Regions from separate parts of the Homo sapiens genome. Here regions 1 and 3 are each linked to region 2. The links come from fine-mapping of genetic effects on gene expression. A gene starts in region 2. Each other region holds a variant in brackets. All regions are shown on one strand. Distances are from middle to middle. Region 1 overlaps NIBAN1 (niban apoptosis regulator 1). Region 2 holds the start of NIBAN1 (niban apoptosis regulator 1). Region 3 overlaps NIBAN1 (niban apoptosis regulator 1).

What was found. PIP is the estimated chance that this variant, and not a neighbour inherited with it, causes the effect.
Region 1: its variant is fine-mapped to the expression of NIBAN1 in blood mononuclear cells (TOPMed, PIP above 0.99).
Region 3: its variant is fine-mapped to the expression of NIBAN1 in whole blood (INTERVAL, PIP 0.90).

What each region holds. Positions count from the first base shown.
Region 1 is chr1:184,864,004-184,872,187 of GRCh38, forward strand. All of the region lies in intron 5 of NIBAN1 (niban apoptosis regulator 1), which reads right to left. Among named protein-coding and RNA genes, the nearest start is that of NIBAN1, 110 kb to the right of the region's middle. The variant AC/A (reference allele first, on the strand shown) is at 4,530.
Region 2 is chr1:184,969,659-184,977,842 of GRCh38, forward strand. It overlaps NIBAN1 (niban apoptosis regulator 1), which reads right to left and starts at 4,850. Exons shown (of 14, transcript NM_052966.4): 1 at 4,644-4,850. The coding sequence starts at 4,698. RefSeq lists an enhancer at 4,035-4,204 and a silencer at 4,315-4,634.
Region 3 is chr1:184,883,892-184,892,075 of GRCh38, forward strand. NIBAN1 (niban apoptosis regulator 1) reads right to left here. Exons shown (of 14, transcript NM_052966.4): 4 at 6,217-6,331; 5 at 742-909. Among named protein-coding and RNA genes, the nearest start is that of NIBAN1, 87 kb to the right of the region's middle. The variant T/C (reference allele first, on the strand shown) is at 4,115.

The DNA.
Region 1 (8,184 bases), 110 kb before region 2:
TTCTAAAATCCCTCTTCAAATGTAGCAGGAGAAACTGAATATATAATCCTTTAGTTGTCAGGCTCTTTAATACACAACAATTACGAGCTTGAGCTTTGGAGTTAAACATTCAGGATTGAATTCTGAGTCCACCACTTGATAACTGCCTACCTCTAGGCAATCTCCTTTAGCTATCTAAATCTTGGTTTCCTACGGACAATAATGCTGTTTAACTAAAAGGATTGTTGTCAGCCTTCACACAGTGCTTGGCACACGGTAAGTGCTCAATAAATATTAGCAATGTGAGCTATCATTAGTATTTTATCATTATAATTGGCAATCATACTTCTGACAAACTATAACGTACAAACCATTTCATTTTTATTTTCTTCCTCTAGGAGCTATATAACAGCCAATAAACACTTTATAGGTACATTATTCTAGTCTGTGAACAAGTGTGAATTACACATTTGAATAGGGTGAATTTAGAGGAAGCTGTTATCTTCCCTGACATTATTCCAGTAACGGAAGCCACTTCATTGTGAGAGGAAGAGTCTGCAGAGGTGAAGAAATGTTGTTTGGGTTCTTTTGTTAAGTCACTTCTTCAAAAGTGATGGTAAGTGTTACAGTCACCAAGGTGACTGTAAAAAAAAATACGTAAAATGAAAATAGATGCATTAAAAAATAATATTTTATTCACAAACTAGACATCTAACAAAGGTCTAATATTCAGAACCTTTAAGGAACTTAATTGAACAAGCAAAAAACAAATAATCGCATTAAAAATGGGCAAAAGACATGAATAGACAATTCTCAGAAGAAGACATACAAACGGCCAACAAACATATTTTAAGAATGCATATGTACCCTAAAACTTAAAGTATAATAATAATAAAAGAAAAAAAAAACATTGGCAGCATTTATAAGAACTAACTAGTTATAAGTAGTTCACTAAGAATGACCTCATCACAGGTTTTAGCTGAAACAATATAAAACTAAAGAGGTCAAAAAAAAAAAAAAAAAGAATGCTCAGTATCACTAATCATCAGAGAAATGCAAATCAAAATCACAATGTGATACCATCTCACACCAGTCAGAATGGCTATTACTAAAAAGTCAAAAAATAACAGATGCTGGTGAGGTGCAGAGAAAAGGGAATGCTTATACATGGTAGATAGGAATGTAAGTTAGTTCAGCCACTGTGGAAAGCAGTCTGGAATCAGCCTTGGTGCCCATCAACAGTGGGCTGGGCAAAGAAAATGTGGTATATATACACAATGGGATACTACACAGCTATTAAAAAAAGAACAAAATCATGTCCTTTGTAGCAACATGGAGGAAGCTGAAGGCCATTATAAGCAAATTAACACAGGAGCAGAAAACCAAATACCTCATGTTCTCACTTATAAGTGGGAGCCACACATTGAGTACCAATGGACATATAGATGGCAACAATACACGGGACTATAGAGGTGGGGGAAGGGTACAGAGTTGAAAAACCTAACTATTGTATACTATGCTCAGTACTTGGGTAACGAGACCATTCATACCCCAAACCTCAGCATCACACAGTATACCAATGTAACAAATCTGCACACGTACCCCCAAATCTAAAACAAGCTGAAAAAAAATAATTTTTAAACAAAAAGAAAGGATGCTTAATGGGTCACAGCCAACAAAACAGTGACTTAAATAATGGCATCATGCAACACATTTCACTTTGTCTGGTCAGTCTCAGTCAGAAATCTAACTGCTAAGATTGATTTTCATTAATCATCCAAATAATAAGCCAAAAATACTGTTTTATGTAAAGGAAGGCTTAAACACAAATGATAGTAGGCGATGAGGAGCATGAGAAAAAAAGTTGTAAAGCTGATGGAAAATGAAAAATAAACAAGTAACTGCACAGATAGTCAAAAAAGAAAGCAAAATCTTCCAAAGAAATTGCCTTTGCTGTTAACAAGTAAAATAGACCTTTCTCCTAAACAATCCGGAATGCTTTATTAACTATTCTTATCATTTCCAGATGCTTTTTCAAATGATGACCTACTTCCCATGCTCCTTTATTCAGTTAAAAAAAAATGAGTATGTGCTTACTACACCCCTACACTCAGTACTAATGGCTGAGATGTAATAGTAGATGGGCATAGACTTGGCTTCTAGGAACTCCTAGTTTTAGGAGTCAGATAAATAAATAGTCAATGATGACATGATGTGATTAGAACTGTGATGGAAGTAAGGACAGGTACGAGAGAAGGAAGGACAGATGAATGGACAGATAGAAGAAAATTGTGGGGCTTTCACCTACCTGAAAGATTAAGAAAGGTGTTCTGGTGGAAATGACATTTAACCTAAGGCCTTCAGAAAATCAAATTTAGGAGTCCAAAAGTGAGCTATTGGCTTAGGATTTAGTTCTAAGGGCTGAAAGATGCAGAGGGAATTGAAAATAGTGTTATAATTCTAGGATGTGTTCTTTGGAGGAAAGTTAAGAAGACACGAAATGTAATTTTAAGATGATAATGTGTAACAATCCACTTAACCCAACTGTCAGCTCCCTATAATAATATTTCAATTTCAAATCTGTTCCCTTCTCTTAAGTTATGAAATTCACATTTCCAGAGACATCTAAATTAGATCATAAGTTTCTTAGATTCCTGACCTGGTAAAAAATATACATGGTATGAAGAGAACAGTACTGTGTTCATTTAAAGCCACCAAATATGGAACTAGAAATCAGAAGAAAACCAGAGATGGCAAAATTTAGACCAATGGCAACTCACTCATCTATGCTGGTAATTTCACTACCCTTCATCCTGACCAAACCCAATCATAAATGTCAATCAGCCTATCTCAAAATTAGTGATATTTAGAACTTCACCTAGCAATTCTAGAAAGCTTTTGGCTTGCAAGGTATCTATGAAAGAAAGAGTGGAAGTTTTGCACCCCTTTCATCTAATCAAAATTCAAAATTTCTTCCCCCTTCTATTGTTATTCATTTATGAGCACAGATGTGCAAAAACCAATTCATTTTAAAGTCAAATACTAAATATGATGACTTACATCTGTACAAAAATCTGAAGTGCAGTACCGATACTAATGCGGTGACATCAGCAAGGCCAAACAGGAAGCTGAGGTATAGCCCCCATCACACACAGACACTCTCTCTCGGTCTCTCTCTCTCTCTCTCTCACACACACACACCCCTACACACAAACACACACACACACACACCCCAAAAGTGTCTCAGCTATAATATTGCATTCACTTAACGAATAGCCTTATTGCAAAACTTTGTGGTTTGTGACTAGGGTCTATTGTGCCAGGAAAAATATCTCCCTCTGTGCATGTTAAGCTTCTTCTGACAAGAAGCACTAGAAAGATACAAACCACCTATGTTCTTAGCAAGAATGACTCATTATTATTGGCACAAGGAGAATACAACTTTGTGGTAAGGCTTTTTGTTCTCAACTTGAAAATACCTAATCTGATATCCTAAAGCCTGGAGAAGAAAAAAAGAAGGATATCTTCAACTATTATCCTCCTCACTAGGGATTTAAGAAGGAAAGGACAATGGCTAAGGTGTGTGATAAGGTTACATCCTGCTTGACCCACCGTGTTTCCTGGAACAGAACCACTTGGGCTTGGGCCCGAGTTCACTTAAAGTGAGATGGAATGAGGCAAAATGATGTTCCTGATCTATTTTCTATTTCTTTTATTCCACTTATCCTGGAAAGTCAGGAGGAAATCATCCTCAAACTCTCCTCTGTTAACTGAGTGGGATAGCCTTACAAATTGAGTTTGGTTTATAAGCAATGACTGTGTTTTCGGTTTGTTTTGCCCCCAGCATCTAAGACAATGTTCTGGACACAGTAGACCCTTACCTTAATAGAGGCTCTTTTGTTCCAGCTTTTGTCTACCCCGTCACTTAAAGTGTCCCGTGTCACACAACGGGACAGTGTGGCAGTCTAATAGTTTCTAGGGAAAGGTGGGGAAGGAAAAAACAACAAATGAAGAGAAGTCTCAGTTCCTTTCTTAGCTGGTGATTGCATGAGCCATGCCCTGATCTCCCACCAGAAAGGAACTTGGCAGGGAGGGGCTTTGTCTGGTAAGATGTGAAAATGGGTGCTTTGCTTTCATTGCTCCTTCCTAACTTCCAACTTCCTTCTTTTTTACCTCCTTTTCTAAGCCTCTTAAAATAGAAATGTCCCACTAACACCCAGACGTTGTTGACTTGCAATATGATTTGTGGTCTCCAAAAGAAAATGCTAAAAAATTGTTTTAAAAAATTCAGGTCAGATCAGGACTTCCCCAACCCCCTCAGCAACAGCCAGTATGGGAATCCAGTTAACAAAAGAAAATGCTGAAAGGAAAAAAAAATAAAGGCTAAGTACTTAAAACACAAAGAACTGGTAATAGATAAGTACCATGAATTTTTCAACCCCACCCCTGCAACATATCCCACAAAATTATTCTCAGCTGTACATTTGCATAAACCAAGAAAATTCTAGCTTTGGAGAACATTTATAGAGTACACAGTTTACCACAGGAAC[AC/A]CCTTTTGGGTTAAGGCACAACTTCATGTTTAAAAGCAGAGAAAAGACTTAACTTCTGCATCTCAATTGTCACCTGAGTTTCAATTGATGTAGCAGCTCATGTCCCTCTCAAGTAGATATCAAGAAATTATCCATGTCAAGTTCAGTAGGAAGTGAGTATCCTCAAATCATCTGTTCCTGAATAAGGAATGAGATTAGATTTTTTTTAAAAATATCAGCTAGTCAAACACAGGGCACACAGTATGCGTTTAATAAGTACCTGCTGACTGAGAAGACACATGGTACAGTAGTTTAGAACACGGGCTTGAAGTCGGCCTGCTTGGCTTTAAAATCTTGTCCTGATCACCAGCTGTCTTACCAGCTGCCCCAGAACCCTCGTCTATAAAATGGGCATGATGACAATAATAGTGCCTACCTCACAGGACTGCTGTGAGGATTAAATGAGTTAATACAGTGGCTTTCCAAGTAGGGTCCCCAGGCCAGTAGTATCAGCATCAGCATTACCTGAGAACATGTCAGAAATGCAAATTCTTAGGACCCACCCCAGGCCAGGGAATTCCAGTGCATATTCAAGCAAGGGAAACAGACTAAATAATTTTAGGCATATTGCTTTCCTCTGGGATTTTATGGTCATGTCTAAGGGAAAGGTGGTACATTGCCTCTCACTCGGACAGAAGAAGGGGATAAAAGTAGAAGAGAAGAGAGGTATTTTATCTTACTAGTGGAGATCATCCATGTACACCTACACACGGTACAGCTTACCAGAGTGAGCTCTTACGTAAAATTAGATCGTCCAGTATAAAAAGCGAAAGGGTCACACTGGAAATGCAAAACTCAGTAAAGAAAATGTATCTCAGTTGTGCTTGCTATTAGATTCAGGATTATTTTCAAAAAGGAAATCCCATGAAGAGTCTAGTTGTGGTCCTCTCACTAAAATATTATAAAGAGTTTAATTTTATCTTACAATTGCTAAGCACATTGTGACCATTCACTACTTTTATTTGCATTCACTACTTTTTTTTTTTTTGAGACAGAGTTTCACTCTGTTTCCCAAGCCGGAGTGCAGTGGCTCCATCTCGGCTCACTGCAACTCCACCTCCCATGTTCAAGCGATTCTCCTGCCTCAGCCTCCTGAGTAGCTGGGATTACAGTTGTGCGCCACCATGCCCGGCTAATTTTTGTATTTTTAGTAGAGATGGGTTTTCACCATGTTGGCCAGGCTAGTCTCAAACTCCTGACCTCAAATGACCCACCCACCTTGGCCTCCCAACGTGCTAGGATTACGGGCGTGAGCCACTGCGCTCGGCCCACCATTCACCACTTTTTTATTGTGCTGTTGAATATCACTTCAAACATTAAATTCATATTATAAAAATCATGAATCTTTACCAGTAATACAATTTGAGAAAAATAAAAATTAAGTTGCTGAAGCAAAATACCTTATGTTTAAAAGGAAGACCCTAGGCAACAACGATTCTCTAACTCTGAAGGGATGCTGTTTAAAATGTACGTTTCTGGGCTCCTTTCCTCAGAGATTCTAATTCGTAGGTCTGGAATAATGCCAGGGACTCTGAAATTTTAAAAGTCTCTTCCCCCCAACTCTGATTCCACACCAAGTCATTCAGAAGCAGTGGTTGATAGATTACAATATGCTAAAAGTTTTTATCTTTAAATAACCTTAAATGAGTAATATCTTCTGATTAAGCAAAGTCTTCAGAGCTAAGAGCTAATCCTTTATACATGGGAAAGGTTTAAACTCTCTTTGATAGAAAGCTTCCTAAAATGTATTCCACATTTCTCTATCATCTAACACATAACACGTAGGATATAATTTACTCTTGATGACTGAGGTTTGTTTATTATTGTTATGATTGATATGTGCTATAGTTGCCGGGAGCATTCAACAGAGTTGACTGAAACATGGATCCCTAAAATGGCTCTACAACTCGAAAAAGTTCTGAACGTCAGGTTTAGCTTTTGAGTCATTTCCCCCGCTGTCAAGGTGGCAAATATATAGCCCAAGAAGGTGGCTTTTGAGTCATTTCCCGCAAGGTCAAGGTGGTAAATGTGCAGCCTCAGAACCTCAAGGATAATGCGACAGAGCTGCAAAATGAATGGTTGCTCCAAAGATGGAAGCAGCCTTTGTAAAACTGCCTTAGTGACAGTTAACTTTTCAACATCATACAATTTTTGTTAACACCATGCAAAAACCTATGGTGTTCAGCAGCATAGCATACTCTATACCGTAACCAACCCTCTTACTGAAGAAAAGACATAGTGGATAAATTGCACTTCCAAAAGTTCTTTTGAATACCTCAATGAACTGGCAACAACGTAAGACCTGTTATAGATTGAATTGTATACCCCCCAAATTCATACGTTGAAATCTTGATTCCCCCAAATCTCAGAAAGTGTCCTTGTTTGGAAATACGGTCATTGCATATGTAATTAGTTTAGATGAGATCATTCTGGAATAGGATAAGCCCCCAATCCAATATGACTGGTGTCCTTATAAAAGAGGAAAATGTGCTAGCTGGGTGCAGTGGCTCATGCCTGTAATCCCAGTATTTTGGGAGGCCAAGGTGGGCAAATCACCTGAGGTCAGGAGTTCAAGACTAGCCTGGCCAACATGGTGAAACCCCGTCTCTACTAAAAATACAAAAATTAGCCAAGCATGGTGGTGTGTGCCTGTAATCCCAGCTGCTTGGGAGGCTGAGGCTGGAGAATCACTTGAACCTGGGAGGTGGAGGGTGCAATGAGCTGAGATCATGTCATTACACTCCAGCCTGGGTTACAAGATCAAAACTCTATCTCAAAAAAAAAAAAAAAAAAAAAAAAAAGAGGAAAATGTGGACACAGACACATACATAGGGAAAATGTCATGGGAGGATGAAGGCATGGATCAGAGTGATGCTTATATAAGCCAAGGAGAGAAGCCTGGAATGGATCCTTTTCTCATTGCCCTCAGAAGGAACCAACCCTGCCATCATCTGGATTTTGAACTTTGAGACAATACACTTCTGGTGTTTAAGTCACTAAGTTTGAGGTGTTTTGTTACAACAGCCCTAGCAAACTAATACAAAACCCAAAAACATAAGGCAAGTCTTGAAGCTAGTTTTCACTTTGAAGACACTGATAGAACCTAGTGACCTTAAGCTACCTTTTTCTAGCCTCCCAGGATGCTGAATACCAGAATCAAAGAACCAATGCATATAATGTGCCAAATTAAATTGCAGAAACCACCCACATACACACGGTCTTAGCCCATTCTAAGGAAAATTGTCTGTCTCAAACCTAGGCATTGAGTGAAAGAGATAAATATTTCTCTTGAGAAATCATAATCAGAAGGATGTCCCCACAATCTTTATGGCCTAAATGCACATTAGCTACATGGTCCAAATATCTGGTAGTGTCCTCAAGCATCTAGTAAGAGGAAACACAAATCCTCTCAGGAACTCACCTTCAACTGGCTTCAGTGAAATATGAACTCATCATCAAAAAAATCACAAAATAAGCAAGTTAATAAGGTACCATGAGTAAGAGCCAGCACAAATAACAGCAGAATACAACCCACAGGGATCTTGGATATTAAAATTAGCAAACACGGAATATAAAATATATTGTTTGACATGTTTAAAAATATTTTTAAAAATT
Region 2 (8,184 bases):
TCTGAAACAGAGGGCAATATCAGGAGTTTCTTTCTTTTTTTTTTTTTTTTAAAGAGAGAGACAAGGTCTTGTCATGTTGCCCAGGCTGGTCTCAAACTTCTGGGCTCAGGCAATCCTACTGCTTCAGCCTCCCAAAGTGCCGGGATTACAGGTGTGAGCCACCAAACCTGGCCAGGAGTTTTAATGCCTGAACAAAACTGGAGTTCTGTTAGAAAAAGGAATGGGGGCTGGGCACAGAGGCTCATGCCTGTAATCCCAGAACTTTAGGAGGCCAAGGCAGGTGGCTCACTTGAGCTCAGGAGTTTGAGATTAGCCTGGGAAACATGGCGAAACCCCGTCTCTACAAAAAAATACAAAAAAACTACCTGGGCATGGTGGCACATGCCTGTACCCCCAGCTACTAAGGAGGGTGAGGTGGGAGGATCGCTTGAGCCCAGGGAGGTCGAGGCTGCAGTGAGCCATGACTGTCCCACTGCACTCTAGTCTGGGTGACAGAGTGAGACCCTGTCTCAAAAAAAAAAAAAAAAAAAATGGAGGAGTGGGAAAAAGATGTTGGGTTGACATACCACGGTGTCTACCATAATGCATTTCCTAACTTTCTCATCATAGTATATTGCCATTACTAGCCAACTTGGACTCTAAGATCACACTACCAAAAATATTCAGGTTAAGTCAGACCAGTTCTTATGCCCATCTCCCACCAACAAATTATGACCGAAGAAGCAAATGTGTGGACTAGTACGACACATCCACACTAAGTAGACTACAGATGTGTACAGCTCTCCCCATCCTCCACCTTGCCCATGGAGACTTCATTCTAGACACATCACTTTAAACTTTGTATCTAGCCACCTAAGTTAACCCTTGTATAAATAAGAGGGAACTTCCCTGAGAAAAATATGTGCTATTTTAAAGCTGAAACTCATTTCTTATTTTATAAGCATCAGATCATTGAGAAGCTTTTGGAGGAAGCCACTGGGCCCTTTATATATTATGTAACTGACTATGCAATAATAAATCCAGTGGGGGAAAACAGTTTTCCTAACTGGTATTTGCTGCTGGCAGGCCTGCAAGTGCCCACTAGGATCTGTTTATCCCATGGTTTTCAGCTGCGGCACTGACTGTCCAGTACTTTTCTGACCCTCCACAGGACTTCTTATGTGGGAGATCTTTCAGGTTTGCTTTCTTTTTGATTCGTTAAAAATTCAAGGGTAATTTTTAGAAGGAAATAAAATTATTGCATAAACAGGAAAACACAGTGTGGGGGGTTTTTTGGTTTTGTTTTGGGGTTTTTTTTTAAGCTATAGTTTAATTTCATGCATACCAAAAGCTTTACAGAAAAAGAGGCCGGGCATGGTGACTCATGCCTGTAATCCCAGCACTTTGGGAGGCCAAGGCGGGAAGACTGCTTGAGCCCAGAAGTTTGAGACCTGCCTGGGCAACATGGCAAAATCCCATCTCTACAAAAAATACAATTAGCTGGGCGTGGTGGCACACACCTGCAGTTTCAGCTACTCAGGAGGCTGAGGTGGGAGGATCACCTGAGCCAGGGGAGGTCAAGGCTCACAGTGATTGTACCACTGCACTCAGCCTGCGTAACAGAGTGAGACCCTATCTCAGAAAACTAAAAAAAGAAAAGAAAAGAAAACATGGCATAAAGAGAGAAGAGCACCCAAACTGATCACTGATGCCTGGAATCTATGAGCTTTCTTCCTCATTAAAAAAAAGATTGGCTGGGCACGGTATCTCATGCCTATAATCCCAGCACTTTGGGAGGCCGAGGCAGGCAGATCACAAGGTCAGGAGATCGAAGCCATCCTGGCCCACATGGTGAAACCCCGTCTCTACTAAAAATACAAAAATTAGCTGGGCATGGTGGTGCGTGGCTGTAATCCTAGCTATTCGGGAGGCTGAGGCAGGAGAATCACTTGGACCAGGGAGTCAGAGGTTGCAGTGATCCGAGATCGTGCCACTACACTCCAGCTTGGTGACAGAGTGAGACTCTGTCTCAAAAAAAAAGGATCATTTTAGGTCAGTGCTAAAAGCATCACTTAAGACTAACATATGACACAGCTCATGTGATCACAAGTTGGTCTCAGTATTATTTATTAATAGAAACATCTTATCAAGGGACACTACTGAAAGGCTTCTAGAAACAATCCTAAAAATTTATTCTGTTGTAAGAAACATGAGCATTGCCGTAATTTCCCAAACTAACATCTTTAGAAATGAAGTAACTCCTTAACGTAGATGATATATCTTTACCTGAAGATTAACTAAATCCTAAGAAACAATGTATTTTCAAAACATCCATATGACACAGATGTTTTGAGGCACACAAGGAATGGCAGCTGTTAAATGATTTGTCTTAAAGTAAAGGCTGATTCAGCGTCAGTAGCATACAGCGGTTTATGATGCATACAAAATAAAGTTAACAAAAGTCACTCAAAATATATTGACTAGCTACTCTCCTTGTTAGCAAAGTTTATCAAGCTTAAAAGAAAGTTATTGTCTCAGCTTCAGGAGCTTTCAAATCTATATTTCACTGATGGCTACTTTATGAGAAACAGGTCATAAAAGTATATTTAAACTTTACTGTCATACTTCCAATCGTTTTGCTTACAATTGAATCAAAGCTTGAGAATATTTATAGGCTAAAAAATGGGCAAAGAGGTAAAGATAGGGCTATGATTTTACTCAGGAACCTGGGCTTCAAAACCATCAGGAAATCACAGCCCTGTGACCCTCATTTGCTCATGCACTAACAATGTACAACACCATGCATTTTTCCAAGGTTCTTTTCTCTTTTGGCAAGACTAGCATTCTCACATGAAGTGATGAGTCTTTTTCCCTGGAGGTATTCTAACTTTAACTCTTCTCTTCCCTCTCCCACTACACATACCTTGCAAGTGCCCTCCTGAATATAGAATGAAGAGAGAAAGCTGAACAAGACTGGGAAATGTAATGACTGTCACACCATATGCTATAGGTTTACTCATTCAAACACTTGCATTACAAGTTCTTCATCTGCCCTAACTCCCTCGTACTTTTGTATATGTAATAATTTAATAGCTTTCAGAATAAAGAAATTAATAGCATTTTCTTATTATCTGAGTACAATGTTTGCATCAATAGCAACAAATGGCACGGCCAGGAAGTCTTCTTTAAGCATGTTAATCCTTCACATTGCTTAACTTCAAATGATTAGTGTACTTGGCCATGCGTCCACATTAGGTGCTCCTAAGCTTTCCAGTGAAATAAAGTCTTATATAAATGCCTTAAACACAACTTTGCTAACATTCAAATGCAAGCCCTTTCTCACTACGTTCTGTTGATTGCCCTTTCAGTCCCTATACACTGGTAACACAAGCATGTAGCCACATTTTTAAGACTAAGGCAGGCTTCATTTATTTCTTTTAAGCTTAGTTCAGCTCTTTTACTAATATAAATAAATCATCCGTCTTTTCCCCTTTAACAAACAAAAGCAAAGAGATACTTGACCAAGTGTTATCCCCTGACAGTACAGGTTGTTGAGGATCTTTTACCTCCAAAAGCACCAGAGCAGGAATCTGTAAAATCAGCTCCGTTGCTCTTCACGTACCCTGATTTGATATCTTTTTAAAACGGTCTTAAATGTTGTGGTGACTGAAAACAAATGTGGAATAAGAACACCAAATAAATGATTTCCTCTTAGGAAAGGATTCAAGGGCCAAATAAACCTAGAGTTTAATACATAGTCTGGAAGATATTTCTGAAGCCGAGGGTGGGGGATCTGGCGGCGGGGCGGGGGAAAGACAGTAAATTGGTAAGATAACCAAATGTTAGGTAGCGGTTGAAGGCAAGTTTGGGGTGGGGGGTGAGAAGAGGGGAGGCCAAATACGCCCAGGAAATAAAGGAGATAACGAGTCAGGACTTCCTGCAGTTTCAGTTCGGTTTGGGTTTTGTTTTGTTTGTTTTGCAGCCTCACGCTCTCTACTGAGTCCCCACATCTCTGAGGGTCTCCCTAAATGAGTTTCTCCCCATCTGTAACTTTCGGGCAGTTACAAAGCACGCCAGTGTTCCTCTTTTGCTTCGCCCCTCTCCGGGGCGGGAAGGGAACGGCATGACATTGTCCTTTTTGCCGCTGATGAAATCATCCTGCAAGTGCTAGGATGAAGTGCGAGCGAAGCTGCGGCCAACGCCGCGCTTTCCAAAGCCAGGCCAACATTACTAAGAGGGAAATTCTGCTTTAGCTGCCGGGAATCCCCAGGGGTATCTCTAGAAACGCGGGATATCCCCGCTGCTCTCTTGGCGGCCAGTTCAGAAACCGCTCAGAACTCAGTCCAGGGCAGGTACTGGAGGGCGAAGTGCGCCGGGCGGGGGCGGCACTGACCCCGAGGCGGCGGGAGCGGCGAAGGCGCCGGCGTCCCCACCCGCATCCTGCACCTGCCTCGCTCCCAAGCCCTCCCGGTCCCCGGTCCACACCCGCGCCGGAGCGCGCCGGCTGGGGCAGGAAACCCGACTCGCGCGGGCGGGCTGCGGTCGGGGATCCCCGCGCGCTACAGGGAGAGGGCCCGGGGCGCGCCCCTTGGGGCCCCGACCGCGGCAGCCAGCCTGGTGCACGGGTCAGGGTGCTCCCCAGGCCCCCGGGCGGGCGGGCGTACCTCGGATGTAAGCGCACTTGCCCTCGTCCAGCTGGCTGGAGGCTGAGCCGCCCATGACCGCGAGCTGCCTGTGCTGAGCGCGGAAACTGCCCGGTCCGCGCCCGCTGCTAGCTCCTGGAGGTTGATCCGACGGCGAACCCGGCTCTGAAATTAAGAGCAAACTTCCTTCGAGAGGCGAGAGACAGGAGGCAAGAGGCGTCGCCTTCTGGGGCGCCTCCTCCAGGTCCGCGCCTTCTGATGATCCGTGGGCCGGCCCGGGGGCTGTCTTCCCGCCCTCGCCTAGCTGGTGAGCTCCGACGGGCTGGCAACCGAGGAGGTCGGCCAGCTCCTCCTCCTCGCCCACGGTCACTTCTTGTTTTCATCCCTTTGGGGCATCCAAGAAACACCTTGGAGGAAGTGGACCATTTCTCAAGTGACTAAATCTCTGTGAGCTGGAACTTTCCCAGCTCACATCCTTCGAGGTGGAGCTCAAGATCACGTTGCCTTGTAAGTGTTGCTGTCCAAGAAGCAACAGTTCTTCCCAAGCATTACCTGGGAGCCTGTTAGAAATACAAAATCTCAGCGCTTTCGTCCACCACCCCTCTACACACACACAGACACACACACACTTAGAATCTGTGGGAGTGGAGCCCAGCAATCTGTGTTTGCACAAACCCTCCAGGGAATTCTGATGCCCGCTGAAGTTTGAGAACTAGAGGTAAACTATACCTTTCTGCAGGCGAGAACCTGGACCAAGGAGGGAGTGGGGAAATGAGGAAAAAAGGAAAGAGAAAAAAAAATGGAAAGACAGGGAAAAACTAAGGCTTGGTCCTGCAATATACTCCCAGCCCTGAAACTTCCTAAGACTTGATGAACGTCTGTCCTTACCCCTTTACTTTCCATTCCTCTCCTTAACTGGAAATCAATCATTAGAAAAGATATTTGTTCTTTTCCCACAACCACTATTTAGCTTGGCAGCCTCTCGGAACAAGACCCACTTGGGCAGAGGGGTCACCGCTGATTTCATCCTATTCTTAGTAGTCAGTTATTTTGCGACTCCTATTGACTTAACCTCAAGGTCAAATGGTCTGTATACACTAGAACCAGGCCTGAGGAGGACTTTGAAGGCTTTCCCACACACCCCCGCCTTCCCTATTAGCTAACTTGCACTTTAACACAATTATTTCATCACACTCACACCCAATCTCTCACACTCTACATTCCAATCTGTCAGTAAATCCTGTCAATTCAGCTTTTAAATATGTCCAATAGCCAACCAATTCTCATCCCCTCTACTGACATCCCATATCATTCCTCACCTTATTCATTACACTAGCTGCCTAACTGATCTACCTTCTTCAGAGAAAAGCCACGACGTCTATCAGGGCCTAGGTGGAGTTTCCTCTGTGATCTTCTCTACCACCACTCCTTGTTCTCTCTGTTCCAGCCCTACTAGCCTTTTTTTTTACTCTTTCTGAGACACATCAAGCTCAGGGCCTTTGCACTTGTTTTTCATTTCTGTAGGATGCTCTTCCTTCAGATATTCACATAGGTTACTCTCTCAGTCATTTCATTCAAGCCTCCACTTTAATGCTAGTAATTCAGAGAGGTTCTCCTTGACCCAGGAACACCAGCCATCACCTCTCTCTGCCACTTGCTCTTCATTATTTCTGTTTCATATCACTTAGTATCATCTAACACATATTTCTTTGTCTATCTTCCCCCACTGCGATGTAAACTCTATAAGATCAGGGATTTTCTTTGTTGTTATTGTTGTTTCTTGGGGCTTTTTCCCTCAAAATTTCTGTTTCCTTTTTTATTATTATTTTTCCTCTTATGGCAGGGATTTTTTTGTCTATTCTGTCCTCTGCTGTATTTCAAATGCCTAGAAGAGCACCTAGCATGTAGTAGGTGTCCAGTAGATAACCACTGAATAAGTGAATGAATGAAAAATAAAATGTAAAAATCTGTACTCAACAAAAACTGTGATCTCAAGCATTTCCAGATAACAACTCAATGATTTAAAATATTTAGTGTTGAACTCTTCTCTCAATACTCTAGTTGGCTCCTAGAATTAAGTGTATCTTCTTGGAGAAGTAATTTCTTTGACTATATAAATTGCTATAACTGTGCCTCAGAATACTGTTATTGTTATTGAAGAAAACTAGCTTGGATCTCCTGCCAGAAGTGTAGTTTTAGCTTGTCACCTCTACTTCAGGAATACTCTGAGAAAGGACTGATTATCCTCATCTACCCTTATCCACTCATTTGTAAATATTCACGGATGAAACAGAGTACAAAGATGGATTCACACAAACAAATGGAAAAACATTCAATGCTCATAGATAAGAAGAATCAATATTGTTAAAATGGTCATACTGCCCAGAGCAATGTACAGATTCAAAGCTCTTCCTATCAAACTACCAAAGACATGCCTCACAGAATTAGAAAAAAACTATTCTAAAATTCAGATGAAACTAAAAAAGAGCCTGAATAGCTAGTGCAATCCTAAGCAAAAAGAACAAAGCTGTTGGCATGGCATGATCTGACTTCAAACTATACTAGAAGGGTACAGTCACCAAAACAGCATAATGCTGGTACAAAAACAGTATACCAAAAATATTGGACAAAAACAGATACATAGACCAATGGAACAGAATAGAGAAATAAACCAGAAATAAAGGTGCACACCTACAACCATCTGATCTTCAACAAAGCTGACAAAAGCAATGGGGAAAGGACTCTCCCTATTCAATAAATGGTGCTGGAATAACTGGCTAGCCATATGCAGGTGATTGAAACTCGACCCCTTCTTTTTTCTTTTTTTTTAGACGGAGTCTTGCTCTGTCACCAGGCTGGAGTGCAGTGCCGCTACCTCGGCTCACTGCAACCTCTGCCTCTTGAGTTCAAGGGATTCTCCTGCCTCAGCCTCCTGAGTAGATGGGACTACAGGCGTGTGCCACCACACCCAGCTAATTTTGTATTTTTAATAGAGATGGGGTTTCACCATTTTGGCCAGGATGGTCTCGATCTCTTGACCTCATGATTCGCCCGCCTCGGCCTCTCAAAGTGCTGGGATTACAGGCGTGAGCCACCATGCCCGGCTGGACCCATTCTTTATATTATACCATACACAAAAATCAACTCAAGATGGATTAAAGACTTAAGTGTAAAACCCAAAACTACAAAAACTCTTGAAGAAATCTAGGAATACCATTCTAGACATAGGCACTGGCAAAGATTTCATGATGAAGACATGAAAAGCAGTTGCAACAAGAACAAAAATTGACAAATGGGACCTGATTTGACTAAAGAGCTTCTGCACAGCAAAAGAAACTATCAACAGAGTAAATAGACAACTCAGAGAATGGGAGAATATATTTGTGAACTATGCATCTAACAGAGATCTAATATCCAGAATCTGTAAGAAATTTAAAGTAGCAAGTAATAAACAAACAACTCCATTAAAAAGTGGGCAAAGGACATAAGCAGACACTTTTCCAAAGAAGACATATACACAGCCAACAAGCATATGAAAAAATGCTCAACATCACTAATCATT
Region 3 (8,184 bases), 86 kb before region 2:
CAGAAATAAAGGTGAAAATAAAAAGGAAATGTCAAAAAGACTAGCATTTGCCAGGGAAAACTGGCATGTTCTTGCTGGCATTTAGATTTTTTTAAATCAGGAAGAAGGAGAGTGAAGTATATGCAAAATGGTCTACATGAATAAACTCAGGACAGTCAGAATGTGACACCCCCCAACTTGCAGCCAGATAACTGCCCCATGTTCTGCTTCACCGGGGCCTCCCAGGCCTGCCTGAAAACCAGCAAGCAGGTGAGGCTCCTTGTGCACAGAACTCTCCCTTTACCTGTTTCCCTCTTCTTCCCTGGGCAGCACCATCTGTGGCTCTTTTTTTTTTTTTTTTTTTTTTTTTTGAGATGGAGTCTTGCACTGTCATCTGGGCTGGAGTGCAGTGGCGCGATCTCGGCTCACCACAGCCTCTGCCTCCCGGGTTCAAGTAATTCTCCTGCCTCAGCCTCCCAAGTAGCTGGGATTACAGGTGCCCACCACCACGTCCAGCTATATTTTTTTGTATTTTTAGTAGAGATGGGATTTCACCATATTGGTCAGGCTGGTCTCGAACTCCTGACCTTGTGATTTGCTGGCCTCAGCTTCCCAAAGTGCTGGGATTACAGGCATGAGCCACCGCACTTGGCTCATCTGTGGCTCTTTCTAAGAATCACTGCAATAGATGATGGACCAGAACAACTCAGCGAGGGCTGCCCCACTTCCCGCCCCGGGGATGAGAGGGGAGCCGCGCCATACCATGATTGAGATGCCTGACGCAGTCACTCAGGAGGGCACTAAACCTCTTCTGGTCAGCAGCCTCGTGGAAGCAGAAGTAGCCGTGTCTGAAGAAGGGCTGCCACAGGTACACTGGGAATTCCTTGGGCAGGACCACAAAGGGCTGAGTGTTCTCCTTCTCACTGGAGGCTAAAGAAATATTGAAAACACAAATACCTTTTAAAACATGTATCTTTTATTTCAAATGTGTGTTTCAGGTCGTGAGGGTGACTATCTGGGGCAGGCCATGGGATGGAAAGTTGGTGAGATATTTTCACAGGATAGGGAAACTGGGAGCACTGGCTCCTCTGGCATCCCTCCACCAGCTTCCCCTGTCCCACTGCGGTCTGCCTGGCCTCCTACCCAACATCACAGGGACAGTGAGGATACCAGGAACACAATTTTTTCTCTTTTTTGAGACAGAGTCTCGCTCTGTCACCCAGGCTGGAGTACAGTGGCACAATCTTTGCTCACTGCAACCTCCACCTCCCAGATTCAAATGATTCTCCTGCCTCAGCCTCCTGAGTAGCTGGGATTATAGGCGCATACCACCACCTCCAGCTAATTTTTGTCTTTTTAGTAGAGACAGGGTTTCACCTTGTTGGCCAGGCTCCTGACCTCAAGTGATCTGCCCGCCTCAGCCTCTCGAGTAGCTGGGATTACAGGCATAAGCCACCGCACCCGGCTAGTTTTTTTGTATTATTTGTAGAGACAGGGTTTTGCCATGTTGCCCAGGCTGATCTCAAACTCCTGAGCTCAAGCGAGCCACCTGACTTTGCCTCCCAAAGTGCTGGGATTACAGGCATGAGCCACCGCGCCCAGCCTGGGCACAATCTTTCTCAACTTCCTTATGTCTAAAGACCCACAAACGGAGCTTCCTCTGCCCTCCTGCCCCTCTGCAGGCCACTGACAACCTGTGCACCCCCTCACTCTACTGGCCCTGCAGGCTCCAGCTCCAACAGGGCAGCTCTCTGCCCTGCACTCTCTCCCTCCTCCCTGTCACTGCCAAACACCACTTGCTGTTTTTATGCCATCAACCTTATTCTCACCTCAGTCTGATTCCTGTCCCCACCAGCTCCTGAAACCCAACTGCTGAAGCCATTTATGTCATCCTGACTGCCAGCCTATGGCTGCTTCTTTTCATCTGACCTGGAATATTTGCTGCTGCTAACAACCCCTTCTTTTGAAAACATTATCTCCCCATGACTTCCAGGAGTGCCTCTCTCCTGGTTTCCTTCATGCTTTGTAGAATTTTGTTTCTTCTTTATCACCTTTATTGGTTCCTCTGCTGACTCTCTCCATCTCCTCGCTAAGCATCGGTGCCTGCCCTGTTCTGTGCTGGCTTCCCCTCCACTCTCAGTCTGTACCCTCCCAGGGTGTGTTCACCCATTCCGTGACTTTTTATATTGTTCCTACAGTCCATAGAACCCTCTCTTCCCTCCTTTCCATCATGCTTTCCCATAAAAAAATTCTCATTCATCCTTCAAAAGTCAGTTCAAAAGCCACTCCTCTGGGATGCCTTTGCTGGCACATCCCACTGCCACCAGAGACAGAGTTAGGTGCTTCCTACCCTGTTCTCCCCAAATACTGCAATGACCTGTTTTCATGCCCAGCGCCCACACTCAGGGTAGGGAGGCGGGGGAGGGGAATGAGATGGATTCCCGTGCTGTTCCCCTCCGCAAGGAGCAGAACCACTGCTACCCACTGTGAACGTCTAGAGATGCAGACTGCATCTTCCATAGCTTTGTATCCTTAGCCCACAGCACAGTCATGGAACATAGCAGATGTTCAACTTCAGTTTGTTGAGTGAAAAATGTGCTTTGTTGGCCTAGGATATTTTTTTAAAGCCCTAGACAATGGGACTTTTACCTCTTCCCTCAAAATCAATTCCAAGCAACTCATTTTAAACCGACTACTATTCAGAACCCCTACCTAAACTTTACTCCTTTCCATGCATTCCTATTACATGATATTGCACTTGGTTAAATGAGTTCCAACTTTTTCCAGAGTCACAGAAAATAAGCAGAAGAAAATGTTAGTTCTGTGCTTCCTGCATATGTATTAAGCACCAATCTCAGGGAAAGGTAAGGAAGAAGGTCTCTCTAAGAGGCCATTGAAAGCACTGGGAATACAAGGAAATGAATCATGACCACATGGGAGTCTACAGAACCGCATCAGTTCTGGCAAATTAATAAATCAGGATTGCTCATGCCTGTAATCCCAGCACTTTGGGAGGCCAAGGAGGGTAGATCATGAGGTCAGGAGTTCAAGACCAGCCTGACCAACATAGTGAAAACCCATCTCTACTAAAAATACAAAAATTAGCCGGGAGTGGTGGCATGCACCTGTAATCCCAGCTATTCAGGAGGCTGAGGCAGGAGAATCACTTGAACCCGGGAGGCAGAGGTTGCAGTGAGCCGAGATCATGCCACTGCACTCCAGCCTGGGTGACAGAGCGAAACTCCATCTCAAAATCAATCAGTCAATCAATCAATCCGTATTGGTTTAAATAAAGAATAAATTTCTGGGGATATATGGGAGCCCTGTTCCAGTGTCCTGGAATCTGAAGGTAACAGAGGAGAATGCACCACCAGCACAAGCCATGGCCCACCAGGACCTAGCACAATGCTGGGAATGAATCAACATGAAAACGAGCAAATGAATGAATGATTGAATGCTATAGAGACACCTGTAGTTGTAACACAGTATCTATTTCCCTTTCTGGGGAGAATAAGGCCCCTGATTTTTAGTTGGGCAAGTGACTACATAAAATAAGACTACATTTCCAGCCTCCTTTGCAGCTTGGTGAGCCCACAGCTACTAAGATCTGTCCAGTAAGATATAAGCTGAAGTGGCATATGAAACTTCCTGGAGGTATCTCTAAAGAAAGTGAATGTACCCTCCTCCTTTCCTTTTCTCCTCCCTATTATCTGGAATGAGAATGCTATGGTAGGAGCTCAGCAGCCACCCTGGACCCTGCCAAAAGGGGCCACAACCTAGAAATAAAGGGGGAGAAAGCAAGAAAGAGCCTGAGCTTCAGACAAATTTAGTCCACACCAGCCCTGAACTAATATCGAAATATCTTTAGTGAGATAATAAAACTTTGAGTTTTTTATTGTATGCAGTAAATGAGATTCTAACCAGTAAAATGCCAAACAAGTGAATTACTTTAACAAAACACGGGGGCATTTTTTTCTGTATCAACTTAGCTGAACACTCTGTAAAGAATACACTTATTGGCCAGGCATGGTGGCTTATGCCTATAATCCCAGCACTTTGGGAGGCCAAGGCAGGAGGGTCACTTGAGCTCAGGAGTTGAAGACCAACTTGGGTAACAGAGTGAGACCATTGTCTC[T/C]GCAGTTCTTTGTTTGTTTTTTTGCTTGTTTTGTTTTTCTGGGCATAGTGGCATGTAGCTGTGGTCCCAGCAACTCGAGAGTCTGAGGTGGGAGGATTACTTGAGCCCAGGAGGTCGAGGCTACAGTGAGCCATGATCACATCACTGCATTCCAGCCTGGGCAACAGAGTGAGACTCTGTCTCAAAAGAAAAAAGAAAAAGAAATGCACTTATTCATAAGCCTCTAGTGCTTTTTCCAAGAAATGCACTTATTCATAAGCATCCCATCTTTATTATGCCTTTATTCTTTCTGGTAGAAATAATATCACAGAGTCAGTCTTCTTGACTGACATGGTTCTATCAAACAATCCTCCTTGCCCTCTCCAAGAATGTCATAATTTTGTACAAGCAACCAAAAGCAACATTGATCCTTTGCATTTAAAAAGCCTCAACAAACCCATAAAATTCATTCCTTTTAGCCTCTAGTTATCTCTCAACCTTTTACAACAATTTTCCAGATGCCATCAGTGAATTTTTTCTGAGTTACAAGAATATCACAACTGATCTACTGTAGAATATTCTATTTTAAAAGTCAGAAGGTCACAACACACAATTTTAAAAAGTCATTAAAATGCCCCAATCTGAAGCCTTGGGCCAACTGGGATTAATCACACAGGACTTGTGTTTTTTAGTCCTTTTCATTCCCTCCAATATGATTACAGCAATAAATCAATAAACATATTGTCTCTTCTGGCTGATTTCATTGGAAAGTTTTAGAGAGATTTGGATGAGTCAACATGTTGGTATTCCCATTTCTAGCTGCAGCTCCACTGCCAAGGGCATATAAGTAGATGTAAAAGAAAATATAATAATATGCATAGTGCACATAAAGTGTTGTTTTAGCATGAATTACTTAGTAATAATTTGTTAATCTTAGTTTATGGTCCATGTACCAATCCTGTAATTGTGTTATTAAAAACACTATGTTAAGCACTCAGCACCGAAATAACAATTGATAAAATGATTATGTTTTTCTCCATAAATTCTAATGAAATTATTATGTCCGTTAATAAGAACCAGGGCTCTCTTCAAGAACCAAGTAATTACTATGTAGTATGATTTATGCAAAGCCAAATGGAGTTATTACATTATCCACACTTCATGAATCTCTATGAATTGCCTTATTTAGTCTATATATTATCCATCATTTCTCCACATGTAAAAAGTGGAATGAATGAGAATCAAAGAAGGTTAGACCTAGAAAGACCCTTCTAGGTTTTTAAGTTCAAAGCCCTGTTTTTGAGTTGGAGAAACAGAAACCAGAGCTGTTCAGCAGCCGGCTAAGCTAAAGCATTTGGTAAGTGGCACAGCCAGAACTAGATAAAAATCCAATCTCCCAATTATCTTTCCATGGCAGCATCCCAGCTTTATTTATAGATATGCAAATTAATGCAATGCTTTTTTTTTTCACAGTAGCTATGAGTTACTGTAACACTTATTAAAAGGTTTTTTGTCTATTTAGGGTATTTAGTTGCATATCATCCTAAAATTAGAAAAATAGTATTCCCTGACAGGTCCAGGCTTGCTTACTAGAAGATGGGATTGTATATTTCATGGACTGGGCCCTACCTGTTTATTTCTGCTGCCTTGTGGAGTGCTATCAAAGCCTGCAATATATTCCAAAAGCTTCAAGATACCTGGCTGACAGCACATTTTCCATGTGCTAGAAACACAGAGACTGACTGTGTATTATTGAATGGGATTAGAAATAATGGAAGTGGTAAAATGTTTTCCTCAACTAGAGAAATCACATCTTCCACTTGTCTATGGGACATGAGTGACTAGCCCAGGGTTTCTCAACCTTGGCACTACTGATACTTTGTACCAGATAACTCTTCCTTGTTAGGGTCTGTCCTGTGCATGGTAGGATGTTTTGTAGCATCCCTGGCCTCTATTCACTAAATGCCATAGCACCCCGATTCCAATTGTGACAAACAAAAATGTCTCCAGATGCTGCCAAATGTCCCTGGAGGGAAATCCCTCTCCTTCACAGAGAAACACTGCTCCAGCTAAACAAAGAAGCTTAGTCATTTTGCCTTGGAAAAGAATGATCAGCAACTCACCAAGAGGGTCTGGGAAATGCCTGTCAGACAACAGATTATATTCATCTTCTGAGGTTAACACCTTGCCACCGGCTGGAAGAATTCGACATTTAGGAGCAGCTCCTCTCTGATAGGCCTGGGGAGGGAAAGGCACACAGGAATGATATCTTTTTCCCCATTTGATTTTTGGAAAATATCAGGGATATAACAAATAGACAGATTCAGACATTCAGAGATAGCAATCCCCATACTATGTTATTGAGTTATAGTCATTTACTCAAAAAATATGTTTTGAATACCTGCTAATGGCAAGGTAATATTTTAATACTTTCATGTGACAGTCACAACATGGTAAATCAGAGTCCCTAATCTCAGGGAGATTTACCCTAGGTATGTTCTCGAATGTGGAAAACATAATCTCAGTAACCCTGAAAGTCTGCACCACATTTGCCATTTCAGATGCTAACAACTAAATCATTCTGATAATAACCACAAAGGTGACGATCACACAAATACTGCACAGAATGCTTGGTGACTGATGTGGGCCACATAGGATGACTAATGAGACTGTGGAACACGTAGCTGCAATGATAGTTACCATGGATTTTCATCAAAACATGAAAATGTTGGCATAAAATATGCCACTATTTTGCCCTCAGATGTGAAACTGTTTTGCAGCAAAATGGTTGAGATGGAAGTACAGCACTGTGACATCAGAACAAATGCTGGCCAGCAGACAAGAAGCTCTGCTATTTGAGACACAGAAAAGAGGCACAGGGCATTGCCAAAGCAGTTTGGTAAGCACCTATGCCCACAAGGACATGCAGATAAGATAACATTTAAGTATGTGCATCTGACGGGAGGGCTTAAGTCAAGGCAAAATTCTGAAACTAGTAATCTAAAGGCAAGTTGAGAATTGAAACTAAGAAAGTTTGAGACCCAAAATCTAGAATTTACTCTTGGAAATGACTAAATAATGTTGATCTGACCAACATAATCAGAGTAACGATAACACGTTCTGCAGCAATAAGATAGTGAAGAGATCCAAATGAAACAAACTCTCAGATATCTAAATTACTTGTAACAACGACTAATCAACTGCTTAAGCATGTGAGGGAACCAGAATATACCCACTAACACAGAATTCTGGCAGCCTGACCTATTCATCCTAAGAAAGACGATTGGAGGACTCTTCTGAATAAATGATTAACCCAGGAAGGAGGATCTATACATAATTGAGGGCTCCCCATGAAATAATACCTTACAGCTCTAAGAACTCCCACAGAGCTACATTATAGTGAAACAATAATGTTGAGAGAAGAATCTAAACTTGTATGATATTAAGAAGATTTACAAGCAATTTGATTTAGACTGGACTCAAAAGTGAATTGTATTACTAGTTATAACAGGCCCCAATATTGGCTTTTATAAGCATTATACCACTTAATCCTCAAAACAGTACTATGCATTACATGTTATCTCCATTTTTCAAATGGGAAACATGAAGCTCAAAGAGACTGAATAACTTGCCCATGGCCCAGCAGTGAGTAGGTGACACATCCAGGATTTATATTCATGCCTGTCCAGCCCCAGTGCACACAAAATAGAAACTGATTATCAAGTGAGAATGTTTTACTTTTCCTGTTTAATTGCCAGCCAGAATTGGACTCTAAATAAAATAATAGATGACTTACAGGTACTTAATGCATAATTCTTAGATATAATTTTATAAGATACTTCCATAAATTAAAAAAAGAAGATATTATTAAAACTTCAAGAAATTATGACAAACTGCGTGGACTTTAAAAGAATTCCAAGTTTCAAAAAACACTTGGTTATTACCAAATTAAGTCACCATATCTTAACAATTTGAACAGGTTCAGTTAAAAACGATGAACAAAGAAAAAGCAGTGCAATGTACAAACTGCAAGCTGAGAGAGCAAGCTGAAATAAGTGAAAAGAGGAAAAACACCAACATTTGATTCAAAA